2 separate regions of the Homo sapiens genome follow, and region 1 is linked to region 2. The links come from fine-mapping of genetic effects on gene expression. A gene starts in region 2. The other region holds a variant in brackets. All regions are shown on one strand. Distances are from middle to middle.

Region 1 (8,972 bases), 37 kb after region 2:
AAACAACCCTGTAAAATCTCACCAAGATTTTTCACTTGTTTCCAGATTATAATGGATTCTGTTTGACTCTGGTCTCCAGGTTGTCAAATGACATATTTTCAGGATATAAGACTATAAGTAGACTTTTCTATTAACAGTAAAGCTTGTGAATCTTGGTTTGATATGTACAAACAGAGCCACCACTATGTACCCCAGTTTCTGGTTGGAGTGACAGAATGAGAACACAGCCAATTTCTGAGCAGCTAGCGGTTTGGGGACACAGTAGGAATTTAATACTGGGTGATCGTTGTATCTTACAAGGTGCATCCTCAAGTAGTAATAACTCATTTGTCAGAGATATATGGTGGTGTTTTGCAGTGATTTGCAAACTGTGTTCTCTGCTGATACGTTAGGGGTTCTCCAAACAAAATTTAAATCTGACAGTGAAGATGAATTGAGACTCCTTCACGCTGTTATCTCAGCACAGGTGAGGGTGAGGCACTTGATGTTAGGAAAACCTTGCTTTAACCCATGTGTCTTTGCGATGGAACAGAAGGATAAGCGAGCCGCTTTGAAAATCAGATTGAATTTTTTTTTTGTAGTAAAGTTTTATCAAACATTTAAGACCTTTACAAACTTGACTAAATTTTGTTATTCATTTCAAATTAATATCAGAAATCTAATGTGTTACATTTTCTTTTTTTTAATATATATTTTAAATTATACTTTAAGTTCTAGGGTACATGTGCACAACGTGCAGGTTTGTTACATATGTATACATGTGCCATGTTGGTGTGCTGCACCCATTAACTCGTCATTTACATTAGGTATTTCTCCTAATGCTTTCCCTCCCCCTCCCCCCACCCCACAACAGGCCCCAGTGTGTGACATAAATTTTATGTCAGATAATGTAGAACAGAGAAGCATCAAAAAATGACTCAATGGTCTTGATAAATTCATTTGAAGATGAAATTATGTTAAAATTTTATAGTTCAGTAATTTAAAAGTATATTATAGTTTTTTTCTTTTTGTTTTGGATGATTTGCATGTAAACAAGTGTAAGGAATCTTTGTAAAGCATCAGAAGAAAATTTTAGGTGTTTTGATGTTCATTAACAGACTATTAGCAAGATGTCAAAGGAATAATAATGCCTGTGCAGATGGTAACTGCTTTGTTCTGTTCCTCTTTTCCCCCAAAACAGATTTGTAAAAATTGTATTTGTTACATTATTCACAAACCTTTTCTACAAAATATATACCAAACTGGGTTCTTTTGAAAGATTTTTCTAGTAATTTTTAGGTCATTTCCATATATATTATGTGCAGTTTAAAAAGCAAACCAACCCTAGTTTGTTAAATAATTACCCTGTTTTTACTTAAAAAAAATGGGGTTGTGCACCTGTGTAAAGTTTGTACATCTTAGCAGTATAAATTACTGACACATTTTTAAAAATGAAGTAAAAACTCAGAATCCTTGTGATTCAGTGCCCTTATGTTTTTAAAAAAGAGGAAAAAATAATGCAAGATTCAGAATATTGGAGTGGTTGATATGCCTTCTTCATTTTAGTTTTTGACTGGCTGCTCATATGCCGATGATGATGAAGCTGAGCTGTTTGTGCCACTGCCATTTGATGCTGCGAGAATCACAACTGTTTCATCTGTTGCTGCTGCTATTAAAAGGCAGAGTAGTAACTGGCCACTGAATTAAATTTAAAAGAAAGGCAGGGGAGAGCCGGCATCTCTGCTGAGGATGGCTTTGCTTAGGTCTTTTCTTAGCCCTGCAACTACTTAACACTTCATATGCTTGCTGAAGGGGTAGGTCTGCCCTTGACTGGTTGAACCTTGTTCAGAATCCTGTTCACCTGGCTGTTGAGGACTAGAAGTTGTAGGTTGCTGAGGTGGTGTTGGGGGTTCTAGCCCCCTCCTCACAGTAGTAGGGGAACCAGAGTTTTGGGGAGCCTTAGCAGTTTTCTTCCTGGTTGCAGGTTGGGGTGGATACAGCTGTTAGACTGTCTGCATTGTCCAGTATAGTAGCCACTAGCCACATGTGGCCAATTAAACCTTTTCTTACTGTGGCTAAATATTATATATATCATAAAATTGATAATTTTAACCATTTTCAAGTGTATGGTTCTATGGCATTGAGTACGTTAACATTGTTTTGCAACTGTCACCAGAACAAACATTCCAGAATATTTTCATCTTCCCCAAATGAAACTCTGTACCCATTAAACAACTCTCCCCTCTCACTCCCCCAGCCCCTGACAACCACCATTCTATTTTCTGTCTCTACGAATTTGACTACTCTAGGTACCTCATGTAAGTGGAATCATATATTTGTCCTTTTGTGTGTGGCTTATTTCACTTAGCACAATGTCCTCAAGGTTCATCCATGTGGTAGCATGTGTGAGAATTTCCTTCCTTTTTAAGGCTGAATAATATGCCACTGTATATGTATACTACATTTTGTTCATTCCTTTGTTGATAGATACTTGGATTGCTTCTACTTTTTTGTTTATTGTGAATAAGGCTGCTATGAACATGGGTGTACAAATATCTCTTTGAGTCCCTGCCCTCAGTTCTTTTGGGTATATACCCAGAAGTGGAATTGCTGAGTCATGTGGTAATTCTATATTTGATTTTTTGAGGAACTGCCAGGCTGTTTACTATAGCAGCTGCATTATTTTACATTCTGACCAACAGTGCACAAGGGTTTCAGTTTTTTCACATCTTCTCCAGTACTTGTTATTTTGGTTTTTCTTTTTTCTTTTTTGAAAATAGCCACTCTAGTGGATGTGAAGTGTGTGGCAGTTTAAATTTAATTAAAAATAAATACATAAATTCACTTCCTTAGTCTCGCTAGCCACATTTTAATTGTTCAATAAGCCACACACAGCTGTGGCTCTCATATTGGACAGTATAGAGAGAACATTTCCATTATTGCAGAAAGTTCTATACTGACAAAACCTGGAGGTAGCAGTGGACCTGAAAGGGATTGATCCAAGCCCAGCAGAGTCCCAAGGATTCAATCAATTGATAACTGACACATACATTGAGAGGCAATCCATTGATAACTGACACATACTTTGTGTAAGTAGTATAATCCAGTATAGACATAGTTTTATATTCTGCCTTTTTCATGTTGCTGCACGGTGTTTATAGTAGTCTTGTTAATAGCTGCACAGAAAGTTGATTTACCGTAATTTACCTAATAATTTTTCCTTGTTAGGGACATAAAACCAGTTTCTCCTTTTCAGTACTGCAGTAGAGTATGCTCATTTCCCAGTTGTCTCCAGGCCTAGCCCTTCTGGTTTCTTCATCTGTTCATTTTATCGTCTTGCTCTTTTTTGTCTCCTTACTGTTTTAACCACTCTATTGGACGTACTTGGCCTCTAAGTAAAGTTTGACTAACGCTAACTAGAACCAGACCATGCCTGTGTTAATATAGCCTAAAATGCCATTAGCTATTTTTGCTGTTTGAACTGCTTGTACCATCTTGGGTCAAGTGCCTACTCCAAAACAGTCAAGGTGCACATTGCCTTAGGCTGGGGTAAATGCCTGTTCGTGAACCTATCACTGTGGCAGAGGGGCAGAATTAAAAATAAGTAGACTGTACAAGCTGCTGTATACCATGAAATAGTTTATGGATTTTTAGGAGGGAACCAACTGCAGTGTCCAGTACCTGGGGGAAGATAGGGAGATAAGAATTAAGGGTCGAACATCCCAAAATCAAAAATTTGAAATTTTCAAAATCTGAAACTTTTTGAGTGCCAATGTGATGCTCAAAGGAAATGCTCATTGGAGCATTTTGAATTTAGGATTTTCTGATTAGGGATGCTCAGCCAGTAAGTATAATGCAAATATTCCAAATTCTGAAAAGAACTCTGAAATGCAAAACACTTCCGGTCTCAAGCATTTTGGTTAAGGGGTATTCAATCGCTACCTCTCAGGTTTCTGGCTTATGCAGGGTATATAGACTCGCATGCTGTCAACTGATTGACTAGGCAAGACTTCAGGATCAGTAGTTTTACGGACAATGTCAAAAGTGTTCTGTTTAGATGTGTTACTTTTGAGATGCCTGTAAGAACTTTCTCGTGGAGATGTCAGTAAGTGGTTGGAAATATGAATCTGAAGCTTGGGGGAGAAGTTGGGGTTGGAGATACAAATGTTGGGGTCATTGGCATGGAATTGGTAATTAAAGCCAAGGGGCTGGATGATGATACCTAGGGAGAGAGTGTGGTAGGTCCAGAACTGAGCCCAGGGCCCATTCAACATTTTGAAGTCAGGTAGACTTCAAAGTCACAGGAGACTGAGAAAGAGCAGCCAGTCAGGTAGAGTGAGAACCTGATAAGTATGGTATGGAGGTAGCTGAGAGGAGAATGTTTCAAGGAGGAAATGGTCAACTAGATCTGACATTGCCAAGATATATGATAAGATGAAGGCAGG[G/A]GAATCTGTCTGATTTGGCAGCATGGAGGTTGTTTTATTTACTTATGTTTGAAGATGCACTTTAGTCTCCAGAGCCTAGGGAGATCATACTGAGGCCACATTGACTTTTCTTTGCTGGGGTAATGGATATTTGAAAGTAATTTGATGGCCAGGTACTGTGGCTCATGCTTATTCTCCCAGCACTTTGGGAGGCCAAAGCGTGAGGATCACTTGAGGCCAGAAGTTCGAGACCAGCCTGGGCAATGTAGAGAGGCTCTTTCCTTTTAATTACTGGTTTTCAAAAAAAGATTTGGTGTTTCAGCACCCTTCAGAGGTGGCCAAAGTAGTTTTTTTTGTTTCGTTTTTATTTTTATTTATTTTTTTGAGACAGAGTTTTGCTCTTGTTGCCCAGGCTGAAGTGCAATGGCTCCATCTCAGCTCACCATAACCTCCACCTCCCGGATTCAATCGATTCTCCTGCCTCAGCCTCCTGAGTATCTGGGAGTACAGGCATGGGCCACCACTCCCTGCTAATTTTGTGTTTTTAGTAGAGACAGGGTTTCTCCCTGTTGGTCAGGCTGGTCTCGAACTCCCAACCTCAGGTGATCCACCCGCCTCGGCCTCCCAAAGTGCTAGGATTATAGGCGTGAGCCACTGCGCCTGGCCAGTAGTTTCTTACAGTTATCATTATGAACTCATAAATTTTCATATACTTGTGTTTAAATCACTTTTTGTTTATTATTTTAATGCTCAAATTGTCCTATCGTTGGCCATTAGGAATGTTTCTTCAAAGACTTTCTCATTTTCAATTTAATTTTTTCCCCAGGTATCCTTAGTGATTTATCAAAAAGAGAAAGAAACTATTTAGCATTGTGGCTTTCATAATTTCTTTCTTTCTTTTTTTTTTTTTTTTTGAAGCAGAGTCTAGCTCTGTCGCCCAGGCTGGAAAGCAGTGGTGCAAACTCGGCTCACTGCAGCCTCTACCTCCCAGGTTCAAGCAGTTCTCTTGCCTCAGCCTCCCAAGTAGCTGGGATTACAGGTGCCCACCACCACGCCTGGATAATTTTTGTGTTTTTAGTAGAGACGGAGTTTCACCATGTCGGCCAGGCTGGTCTTGAACTCCTGACCTCAGGTGATTGCCCACCTTGGCCTCCTGAAGTGCTGGGATTAGAGGCACGAGCCACCGCACCCACCCCATAATTTCTTCTATAACTAATATGACACATTTGGGATTGAGAACACTGTTAATTCCATGTTCTTCAAGGGAGAAACATACTAGTTTCTCCCTTGAATAGTTACAGTCTATTTGATTGGTACTTGATTCCATGATGGTTGGTTATAAACCAGGAATACTACAAAAGTGACAATATAATGTTCCAATATGGTAAACAGCCCCAGGGTGCTTGTCTGCCCACAGGAGTAGGGGAGGTTGGGGCATGAGACACTGGGGACATTTGCTCTCATGTCTACTTATTTTGTCTAGGAATCTTTGTAGAAAACACTATTGTGAGGTGAGTGACAGTGAAGCAGGTACCAGATGGCGATTTATGATTTAGGGGCTCGTCGCATGTGGAGCCCAGCAGCTGTCCTGGTTCTACTTCCTGACAGAGGTCTGGGGAGCACACTTGAGCCCAGTTTTGAGATTGCGAATATATTTTTCTTCTCCATCTTACTAGATCTTTTGGCAGTATTAGACATACTCCCTCCTTGGGAGAGCTTTATCTTAATAAACTGAAAAAAAAAAAAAATTCCTTCCTTCCCCAGTAGCGCTGAAAACTCATTTTCCCTTAAATACTAAATAGAGATGCCCGACTAAGGAACTGATAATAGAAGGACCCGTTGGACTCCAGTGGGGCTTCTGATTTTTGGTGTCTTTCCCCTAACCCTGGAAGACAATAGGAAAACAAGTGATGTCATCGGAACAGAGCCGTTGGCAGAGCCTCCTGGGGACCTGAGTGGTTTTCTTGTCTCTGATAGTCTCTGTTCTGAATTAAGTAATGGCTTGTGATGGAGGTTGGTACTTCCTGCAGCTATTTCATATTTATAGTCATATGCTTGCTGTTAGTAAACAGATGCATCTACTCCAGAAGGAGGCTTCAATGGGCAAGGTGGGAGAGAGTGTTGGGAGAAAGGATTCCTGGTCATTCCTTGTCACAAAAATTATGGGTTTAATGTATGAGACTGGCAGTCATGCAGAGGTTGGGACTCAGTACAACTGTACGTATTTGAGTTAGAAAGCCTTGCATTCCTAGAAGCTGGATTTCAGACAGGATTTCCTCATCCTTTCTGAGACATACAGATTCTGTACTTTTTTTGGAAACCCCCGTATTGCTTAGGATACATTTGGCCACAAATGTCTAAGAAGAAGGGGAGATAAACAGTGGGACAGCTGGCTGCAGCCCTAAAATGCCTCCTCTAGTGCTACTGAGTGCAAAAATGAATTGTCAGCCTACGCGACATGTAGCCCAGCTACACCTGCCACTTCAGCAAACCCTGGATTCTCTCAGCATCATTGGCTCTGGCTGCCTCTGCAGATGTGGTTCTAGGTGCCAGGCCAGGTGCTGGGGGTACAGTGGTGAGGAAGTCAACATGGCTCCCCCACAGAGATGATGGTCTCGAGGCGGAGACTATGCGGTGTGGGAAGCCGTCTTTTTTTGTTTTTTTGTTTTTTTGAGACAGGGTCTTGCTCTGTCATCTAGGCTGGAATGCAGTGGCATGATCAGGTCTCACTGCAGCCTCAATCTCCTAGGCTTAGGCGATCCTCCCACTTTGGCCTCCCAAAGTTTTGGGATTACAGGCATGAACCACGGTGGGGAGCACTCCTAAGGAAGGACAGGGGCCGCTGGGACACACAGGCAGTTGGGGAAGATTTGGAGAGAAAGGGAACTCTTAAAAGATCAAGGAAAATTTGCTGGAAGAGAAGTGGGTTTTAGTAGAGGGTGGTTTGCAGACTGTTTAAGTAGGAACACAGGAGCAAAAGTCCTAAAGGTAAGAAAGTACAACCTGTTCTAGAAACTGACTCTAGTTCAGAATGGCTGTAAGAGATAAGGCTGGATGAGTAGATAAGACCCTGATCTCAAGGGGCTTGTATGCCATTTTGAAGACCTGTCATCTAGGTACTGGGGAGCTGTGGAAGGGGTTCAGGATGGAGAGTGACACAATCAGAATTTCTGGGAAGGTCCTCGTGTTGCAGTGGCGAGAGCGTAGGTGGGAGTGGACTCTAGGCTGAAGGTGAGGTAGCCAGTTAGGCTGTTGCAGTTACTCAGGAGGGATGATGTTGGCTTGAATTAAGGGAATGACAGGTGGCATAAGGAGTGGATGCAACTGAAAGCTGTTTTGGAGGTAGCATGAACAAGCTTGGTGACAGATCTACAAGCTGAGAAAGGAGCCACTAAGGGTGATGGCCACCTTGTTCTCTTGAAAATTCGGGGAAAGGGTACCATTTGCTAAGATAAGTCACATAGTAGAAGGAAGAGGTTTGTGGGAAGAGATGATGAGCTTGGTTTTGGACACATGGTGAGTTTTAGGTGTCTGTGGAGACATCTAGTAGTTATTTGGATTTAGGGTCTGTAGCTCAAGAAGAGACAGCAGGGAGCATGAGAATGAATGGGGAAACTCAGGGAGAGTGGGAGGCAGCAGAAGAATAAGAGAGCTTAGGACCAACCCCAAGGAACCCTCAAATGCGGGGACAGGCTGATGAAGAGGCAGTTCCTAAGGAGAAGGTCAGCTAAAGATGCCTGGCCAGAGAGGCAGGCATCAACCCAGGGGGAGGTGCTGCTTGGAAGCCAGAGGAAGAGTGTTTTTCAATAGTAGCATTAAAAGCTGCTGAGGGATTGAACGAGGTGAGGACTGAGTCCCTGCTGGGTTTCGTGACAAAGTCCTTGTTGACCTGGGAGAGCTGCTTCAGTGGAACAGGTGGGGTTGAAGTTGGGTTGTTGTGGTTTGAGGAATGATGCACAGCCAGGGAGGGGACATGAAATGTCGACAGCTCTTCCCAGAGGTTTACCCATGAAGTGGGGAAGAAAGTGCATTGGTTGGATGAGCTGTCAGAAGTTGTTTGTTGAGCCTGCCTAGATGGTTGTAAGTAGGGCTGTGGTGAGGGAGAGAGATGAGAAGATGGAGAGGGCAATGGAGTGAGTCTCTAAGGAGGTGGGAGGAGAAGGCATGGCAAGCACATGGCTGACTCCGAGTGTGGCTGTCCTGGGGACAGTTGTCCTTTGCCATCAGTGTTGTGTCCTCTACCAAGTCCCCTGTGGTCCTTTGTAAATAGCTTTATCTGGAGACAGAATGGCTCACAGCCAGTTAGGTTTTAAGAAGCTGAATCTGCCACATTCATGTATTTTCTTGTCCTTTCTCTGAGTGCAGTTAACCTGTTAGAGATGCCGGAAGTGAAGCTGTCCATCTGGGTAGCTGAATACATTTTCTTTGAATCCCATTATTGCTGTGAGGCTTTTGAAGGACAGGGTATGGCCATACTGGGGATGACTGTGAACTCATTCAGAGTGGGGTCCTCCTTCTGTTTGGTGTTTTGTTCTGACAATTGAACTTGTCAAATGGAGTTAGTATTAG
Region 2 (8,972 bases):
TGCCACCTCCAACTTCTAGGCTCGAGAGATCCTCTTGCCACCTCCCAAATAGCTGGGACTACAGGGGTGCACCACTGTACCTGGCTAATTTTTAAATGTTTTTGTAGAGAGAAGGTCCCACTATGTCGCTCTGGCTGGTCTCCAACTCCTGGGCTCAAGCAATCTTCCCAATCGGTCTCCCAAAGTGTGAGATTACAGGCATGAGCCACTGTGCCCAGCCTCAAACTGTTACACAATGCTTTATCACTTAGAATTTCTTTTTTTTTTTCTTTTTCTTTTTCTTTTTTTTTTTTCTGAGACAGAGTCTCACTCTATCACCCAGGCTGGAGTGCAGTGGTGTGATCTTGGCTAACCGCAATCTCCGCCTCCTGGGTTCAAGCAATTCTCATGCCTCAGCCTCCTGAATAGCTAGGATTACAGGCATGCGCCATCACACCTGGCTAATTTTTGTATTTTTAGTAGAGACGGGGTTTTGCCATGTTGGCCAGGTTGGTCTTGAACTCCTGACCTCATGTGATCTGCCTGCCTTGGCCTCCCAAAGTGCTGGGATTACAGGCATGAGCCACCGCGCCCGGGTCTATTTTGTTTTAAAAGAACTTTTAGACTTTAAAAACATTCTTATTATATATTACTCTTGTGCAAACATGAAAAAATTTAAGCTACATTGGTTAAGGCATTCCTACTGTTTCTCCACTCAGTTAGTTGCTGATTCTGCTGTTTTTCTGTATAATATCCTACTCTGTGTTGTCAAGGGTATTGATGATGCAGTATTTTTCAATAGTGCTATTCTATTGTCTCTGGAATTTCTTGCAAGCCTCTGCTACTCATTTGTAAGTTTTGATGTTGGCACTTTCTTGCTTTATGTGTGATGGACTACCCATTTGCATACATCTCAATATCAAAACATAATACAGCATCATCTGTTTGTGGTTCTTTTCCTTTCTTGGGTCCGTTAAAATCTCAGTTCCTTTGCAAAATGTGGAATGTGTTCCTTCCTCCAGTGAGGAACATTTGCTTCACTAAAAACAAATGCATATGCTCCACTACTCTGTTTCAGTTCTGTCTGCTTACATAATAACATTTTGGTTTAATGCCAAATTACATGTAATAGATTTGAAGACATTTTAAATGACAAACTCTATCCATGGGGGATCCACCATGTACATCAATCTGTTTATTTCTGCTCTATTACAGAAGTGATGTCCTCCTAAAAGTGTCAAATGATAAAGAGGTGTACAGTTACGTAAATTTTATGTTAAACTGAAATGAGGACATAAACATGCCTATGACTGTGGTCAGAGAAGGCCTCTCTGAGGAGGTAGCATCTTATCAGAGAAGACAGCTGCTTGGAGAGTTGGAAAAAAGCATTCTAGGCTGAGAGAATAGCATGATTATAAAGGTCAGCATACTTGGAATATATTCAGACAAGTTTGATGTAGAACTCAGACTGATGTGTCTGAAGCAAGAGTGGTGCAAGGTGAGGTTGCAGAGAGGCTGGGGTGAGCTCTTGCAGGACTTTGTAGGCTCTCTAAAAGTGCAAGGGAATGTGGTCAACAGCAGATCTTTGATGTGATCCAATTTACATTTTAAGTGGCTACTCTAACATCTAGTAAAGGTACTATTGGATCAGTGGGAGAAAGAATGAAGTAAATTTTGATCAGATAATTGGTTAAACTATTAGAAAAGAATAAAAGCTGTAGACTTTTCTGGATGGGCGCAGTGGCTCATGCCTGTAATCCCAGAACTTTGGGAGGCTGAGGTAGGTGGATCATCTGAGGTCAGGAGTTCGAGACCAGCCAGGCCAACATGGTGAAACCCCGTCTCTACTAAAAATACAAAAATTAGCTGGGCGTGGTGGTGCACACCTGTAATTCCAGATACTAGGGAGGCTGACGCAGGAGAATTGCTTGAACCCGGGAGGCAGAGGTTGCAGTGAACCAAGATTGCGCCACTGTACTCCAGCCTGGGTGACAGAGCAAACCTCCATCTCAAAAAAAAAAAAAAAGACTTTTCCTAATAATTATTCACTAAATTCTAGATAAAGAATTCAAATTCAAATCTTGACCCAATAAGAAATGGAAAAATATTTTGGTAAATATTTATGAGATCTTCCTATGGGCTTCCAAACATAAGAAAAAAACCCATAAAACATAATGAATAACCATACAAGTTTTAAGACTTCAGTATGCCTCAAAGGATTATATTGGTTAGTATAGTTTAGGTTTCAGTGACAGAGAACTCAACTTGAATGGATTAAGAGAAATAGAAAATTTATTCATCTAAACAAAAAGCCAGAGGTATCTGGCCTCCACTGTCCAGTCCTAGTCTTCATAAACGTGAAGTTTGTTAGCCACATTAATAAGCAAAGAAATGTAAATTCAATGGAGACAGAATTTTAACCTACCAAATTAATAAAAATCATGTTAACACCTGGTGTGTTAGGAAGGATTCAAGGAAGTAGGCACTTAAATACATTGCAAGTGGGAGTATACATTGGTATAATTTTTCTGGTGGAAACTTAGAAATGTGTATCAAAAGCCTTAGAATTTTACTTATTCTTTGACACAGAAATTCGATCTCTAGGGTTTTTTCCTACAGAAGAAATCAGGGGCATTTACCAAGATCAAGCATGCTTAAGAATGTTTCTTGAGCCAGGTGCAGTGGCTGATGCCTGTAATCCCAGCACTTTGGGAGGCCCAGGTGGGCGGATCACCTGAGGTCAAGAATTCAAAACCAGCCTGACCTAAAACCCCTGTCTCTACTAAAAATACAAAAATTAGCCAGCTGTGGTGGCGGGCGCCTGTAGTCCCAGCTACTCGGGAGGCTGAGACAGGAGAATTGCTTGAACCTGGGAGGCGGAGGTTGCAGTGAGCCGAGATCACACCATTGCACTCCAGCCTGAGCAACAAGAGGGAAACTGTCTAAAAAAAAAAAACAAAAAACAAACAAAAAGAAAACAAAAAACGAAAAGAGAGAGAGAGAAGGGCTCTAAAGCTGGCCTAAAGCCCTATTAGCATCACTTCCACCAGACCCCTGTTCGTCACACAGTACTGACTTCAGGAATATACTTGATCTGAGTTCCATTAACCTGAGAGGGCTGAGTGTAATGGATGAGAAGTTTGTTCAGACCACATGTTATCCATCCTAGTAATCATGCTGTGCATTCTATAATTCTGACTTATGTGCATTGATTCTCCAAGCCTCCTTTTATTAGGCTGGATTTGAAAAGGAGCAGCTGAGTTTCTAGAAGGACTGACATGACACTCACTTAGATATGACCTTTCATACCTACGTGCCCCTGAAGGTGAAGTTCTAGACACTAACATCTTCACCTGTCTTAGAAGATCATCTTGCTCGAGTGCTGTGGCTCATGCCTGTAATCCCAGAACTTTAGGAGGCCTATGTGGGAGGATTGCTCGAGCCCAGGAGTTTAAGACCAGCCTAAGCAATAAAGTGAGACTTCATCGCTACACAAAAATTTAAAAGTTAGCTGGGTGTGGTGCTGCACACCTGTAGTCCAAGCTACTCGGGCATATACTCATATAGAAATCAGGAATATATAATGCTGTTTTCAGAATTCTCACTACCTGCCCCAAAACTCACAGCTCAGGTCAAAATTACCAATAGGAAATTTTAGCCAGGCATGGTAGCTCATGCCTGTAATCCCAGCACTTTGGGAGACCTAGGCGGGAGGATCTCTTGAACCCAGGAGTTCAAGACCAGTCTGGGCAACATAGTGAGACCCTGTCTCTAAAAAAAGGAGAAATAAATTAATTAAAATTTAAAAATTGAAAAGAAGAAAAATGTAAAATTATATTTTTTTAAAAAACGAAATTGCAATTCTTTTGTGTGCAAGTGTCTCATTGTGAGATTACAGTATGCTTAAGTTGGGGACGCAGTGTTATATGTGTTTTACATCACTTACAGGGCAGTGAATAGAAAGAACAGGAAACACCAAAGGCAATGCTGGAGCAACACAAGTATTAATAAATGCAGGCAGGCAGTATAGTATGGTGGTTAGAGTGTGGGCTGGTAACAAACCTGTTTGTGTTCTAATTCTTACTAGGCACTTTCTAGCTGGGAGACCTTGGCTAAGGTCCTTTTAAAAGTTTTAAATCCATCCAACAAGTACTTACAATGGATGTGTCAAAGACATAGAGGATGCACAGTAAACAAAGTAGACAGCACTTCTGTCCCAAAAAAGGTCTTTCCATAGTCCAGAAGACAAATTTGAAAAACTGAGGAAGGGCCAGGCTCGGTGGCTCACGCCTGTAATCCCAGCACTTTGGAAGGCGGAGGCGGACGGATCACCTGAGGTCAGGAGTTCGAGACCAGCCTGACCAATATGGTGAAACCCCGTCTCTACTAAAAATACAAAAGTTAGCCGGGCGTGGTGGCGCGCACCTTGGAATTGTTTGCGCCCGGGAGGCAGAGGTTGCAGTGAGTCGAGATCATGCCACTGCACTCCAGCCTGGGCGACAGAGCGAGACTCCGTCACAAAACAAACAAACAAACGAACAAACAAACAAACCACTGAGGAAGATCTTAACTGTAAAATTCAAATCATACCCACTTCCAAGCCATGTGTGGATTAAACGAGATAAGCCAACTAAAGCGATTACTCAGCTCAGTGCCTAGTATACAATTAGTGCTTAACAAGTACTAGCGACCGCTTGGCAAAGCAAAGCAGACTGAAGCGTGGGTTTCATTTCTCATCATGTGATAAGTGATAAAATGCTCTTAACCAGGTCGGCTCACCTGGCCTTTCCATTCGACCTAAATAACGTCTACTTACTTGCGTAAGGGAAGAGCTCTGGCCCAGGTCAGCAAGCATTTGTCAGGCTAGAGCCTCCGGGTGGCGCTTCTCGCCCTCAGTAACCGGTTACCTCCAGAACCAGGGCGCCAGCTCCGGCCATCCGCGGTTAAGCGGGAGCTCCCATTGGCTAATCGCACACTGAAACGCACGCCTTTTCCCGCCCCTGACGCTGCCGTCCAATGCGCGCCTCTCGACTCTGCTCCGCCCCGCCCCGCCCCCGTCGCCCTGCCTCCCTGGCGTATTTGCGCCATTGGTGGATATTCCGGACCGTGATGGTGGCGCTGCGCGTGCGCACTCGCTCCGAGCCCTGCTCCCGGGAGAGGGAGCTCTCGGGTCGGGGCTAGGGAAGGCTGACCCCGCTCGGCCCGGGTGAAAGGGCGGTGACGGCACTGGGTGGGGCCGAGCTCCAGGGCTGGCTGCTGGGCTGCTAAGGGAACTGTGAGCCGCTCAGAGCCGCGCGCCTCCCGGGCGGGGCGGGGCCGGCCGTGGGAGTCCGCGCGTGCCCGCGCCGAGCTGCCTGCTCCGGCGGCTTCGCTGCTAGCTCGCGGCGACGTCGGGCCGATTTTCCCAGGATGACAGAGCTGAGGCAGAGGGTGGCCCATGAGCCGGTTGCGCCACCCGAGGACAAGGTAGCGGCAGCGTCGGGGTGGGCGCGGCCGGGACAGCGGCGCATCCGGGAGGCCTGCGGGGGACGCGCGCAGAGGGGTCGTCTTGTTCTCTGACCCTTTGTCGCAGCCGACGGCGGCCCCGGGCCCGGGTAGCGCGAAGGGCCCTCGGGTGCCCGGCCTTCGCGGCGCGCGCGTCAGGGGTCGGCGGGTCGGGGTCCCGGCTCAGGGTCTGACTGAAGTGGCTCCCCCGGGGCGCAGGAAGGAGCTTCTCGGGAGTGGCGCACGGCCTCCTGCCTCGCTGGGCTGGCTGCGGGGACTCCCCTCTCCCCCAACTCCGTGAGGCCTTCCTGGAGGTGAAGATATGCAGAGCCTTCTTAGGGAGGCGGCTCCTCTGAGCGCAACTTAGGCTCTCCGTTCCCTTTTACAATGTTATTATTTTGGGGGGTGGGGGAATCAGGACAAGGCCATAGCATTTGCCTCCTGGGAGATGTAAATCCCTTCTTGGGCATGAAATCATCGGCTTTGAGCAAAGGGGTGTTACCCAGTGAGCCAGTCCGTCATCAGCAGGTGTTGGAGGGCGTCCTCCCGGTTGATGGGTTGTTTCCTGCACCGTGTGGGCTCTGGTGGGTAGGGGAGGAGAGTAGGAAGGAGGCCATCTTGGCGGGGACAGTGGCGGGGGTGACGGGTGGGGGAGTGGACTCCTTTGGGTGAAGTGAAAGATCTGTGTAGGGGAGTTAAGGAAGGTAGGGATTGGTTTTATTACTGTGGAGGTTGAATGGCAGTATAGGACTTTGTAGCAGTAGTTGTGCTTTCCGAGATAGCAGTGATCAGGAGCCCTGTGTTTGGGAAACTGATCAGACAGTGATGTGTAGAAGGGACTGAGGGAGCCTGGACCAGACTGAGGGAGCCTGGTTCACTCGGGATTGCCCATGAGTGACCTGTAGATGTTTTCTTTGGCCCACATATTGCCTTAAAAATCAGAAAGTTTCTCCTAACAATCTAAATTTCTTGCCTGTCTTAGATAATTGGAGGGTCCACCATCACTTTGTCACCTGCTCAATGGTTGGCTGGAGCTGAGGATCATCGGTTCCCACCAATCCCTGTTGCCTTACACCAGGCTCACGGCTTCCCCTAATGCAGCCTGTAACTTTTTGATGACTGGACGCAACGGACATTAGGGAGACACCCAGAAGGAAGAAAGCACAAGATTTGGTGACAGGATGTCAACAGAGCAGTTACACTAGGAGGAATGTTTTTGGTGAAAGATAATGAGATCATGGGTTTTTTTTAAACAACTTTCGTGTTATTGCAGTTGACAGTGGACTATCCAAAGAGAACTGTTCCTACCGATTTTTAGAACATATATTTTGGCCAGGCACAGTGCTGCTCGCCTGTAATCCTAGCTTCTAGGGAGGCTGAGGCAGGAGGATCGCTTGAGCCCAGGAGTTTGAGACCCTGTCTCAAAAAACAAAAACAAAAACATATTTTGGAGAACATTTAGGGCTGGGGCTGAGGATTTAGCAGTCGCTTGCAGAGACAAGATACTTTGAAGTCTCTAATTTTTCATTTGGCTATCCTGGTTCAGCCTGAAAGAATTCTGACTTACCTTGTACTACTAGTTGGTGAGTATGCAGATGTTTGGAGGCTCTGTAGCTCTGTTTAAGGGTGAGATCATGCTTGATGTTAGTGGGACTTTGTGGACCTAGAAGGTGTGAGGAGAGAGAGAAGAAAGAAGGCATGATAGCTGGTGGGCCATGTTTTTGAAAAGCTAACTATGTACAATAATTAGAATGTCAAAAAACAACCTTGGGATTATGAGATGCAACATAAAGATTCTACCCTCCTTCCCGGACTCGTTGGATCCATCCCCCAGAGATAAAGTGCGAGTTGAACCGTCTTACTTTCACATCCTGTACTTTAGACTGGGAGGACCTGAGGAGCTGTCCAGCTAGAGGTGCACTTATATCACTTATACAGTGACAGAATGCCTGGGGTCATGAGGTCCACTTGTGGCGTGTTGTTTCCTAAAAGACAGCTGCTATGCACTCTGTTAAAAGCCTGATGTTCATTACCGAGAACAAGACAATCAGTTCCTCACCCCATTATTCAGAACTTCTCAATTGTCACTGAATTGTCATGTATGGGATTTTATTATTATTATTTTTTTAGACGGAGTCTCTCTCTGTCGCCCAGGCTGGAGTGCAGTGGCACGATCTCAGCTCACTGCAACCTCTGCCTCCCAGGTTCAAGCTAGTCTCCTGCCTCAGCCTCCTGAGTAGCTGGGACTATAGGCATCCGCCACCACGCTCGGCTAATTTTTTTTTTTTTTTTTGAGAGGGAGTTTCGCTCTTTTGCCCAGGCTGGAGTGCAATGGCATGATGTTGGCTCATCGCAACCTCTACCTCCCAGGTTCAAGCAATTCTCCTGCCTCAGCCGCCCGAGTAGCTGGGACTGCAGGCGTGTGCTACCATGCCCGGCTAATGTTGTATTTTTAGTAGAGGCACGGCTTCTCAATGTTGGTCAGGCTGGCCTCAAACTCCCAACCTTAGGTGATCCTCCCGCCTCAGCTTCCCAAAGTGCTGGGATTATAGGCATGAGCCACTGTACCTGGCGTTTTTTTTTTTGTATTTTTAGTAGAGATGGGGTTTCACTGTATTGGCCAGGCTGGTCTTGAACTCCTGACTTCGTGATCTGCCCGCCTCGGTCTCCCAAAGTGCTGAGACTACAGACGTGAGCCACCACACCTGGCCATGTTTGGGATTTTTAATAAGGGAACATTTTAAAAACTGTGAAATCTATTATTTGTCTTTGAATGTATATAGTAAACTTTTGTTTGTTGGTTTGTTTTTTTGTTTTTTTTTGAGACAGAGTTTCGCTCTTGTTGCCCAGGCTGGAGTGCAATGGCACAATCTCGGCTCACTGCAACCTCCACCTCCCGTGTTCAAGCAATTCTCCTGCCTTAGCTTCCCCAGTACCTGGGATTACAGGTGCCTGCCATCACGACTGGCTAATTTTTTTGTGTTTTTAGTAGAGACGAGGTTTCACCATGTTGGCCAGGTTGGTCTCGAACTCCTGACCTCAGGTGATCTACCCACTTTGGCCTCCCAAAGTGCTGGGATTACAGGTGTGAGCCACCGTGCCCGGCCCATAGTAAACTTTTAAAAAATCCTGATTTATTCTGTTTCATAGTTTGGGAAACACCTACTTCCATGACTTTGGCTTTGCCAATATTCTTGTGTTAGAACCCAAGGAAATTAGAAATAATAAATTTTAAGGAAATGCATTATGAAACAAGAACTTTTTAATTTCATAGTAGAAGAATCCAGTGAACAATTTTCAAGTCAGTGCTTTAAAAGCTCTGGAATAGGCTGGGCGCGGTGGCTCACGCCTGTAATCCCAGCACTTTGGGAGGCTGAGGTGGGCAGATCACCTGAGGTCAGGAGTTCGAGACCAGCCTGACCAACGGGGTTTTAGTAGAAACCCCGTCTCTACTAAAAATACAAAATTAGCCGGGCGTGGTGGTGCATGCCTGTAATCCCAGCTACTCA

The links.
Region 1: its variant is fine-mapped to the expression of CDS2 in whole blood (INTERVAL, PIP 0.93).

The regions. Positions count from the first base shown.
Region 1 is chr20:5,158,492-5,167,463 of GRCh38, forward strand. All of the region lies in intron 1 of CDS2 (CDP-diacylglycerol synthase 2), which reads left to right. Among named protein-coding and RNA genes, the nearest start is that of CDS2, 36 kb to the left of the region's middle. The variant G/A (reference allele first, on the strand shown) is at 4,425.
Region 2 is chr20:5,121,705-5,130,676 of GRCh38, forward strand. CDS2 (CDP-diacylglycerol synthase 2) reads left to right here and starts at 5,304. Exons shown (of 13, transcript NM_003818.4): 1 at 5,304-5,445. The coding sequence starts at 5,389. It also overlaps a transcript of PCNA not described here. RefSeq lists a silencer at 4,793-5,712 and enhancers at 4,975-5,476, 6,053-6,142.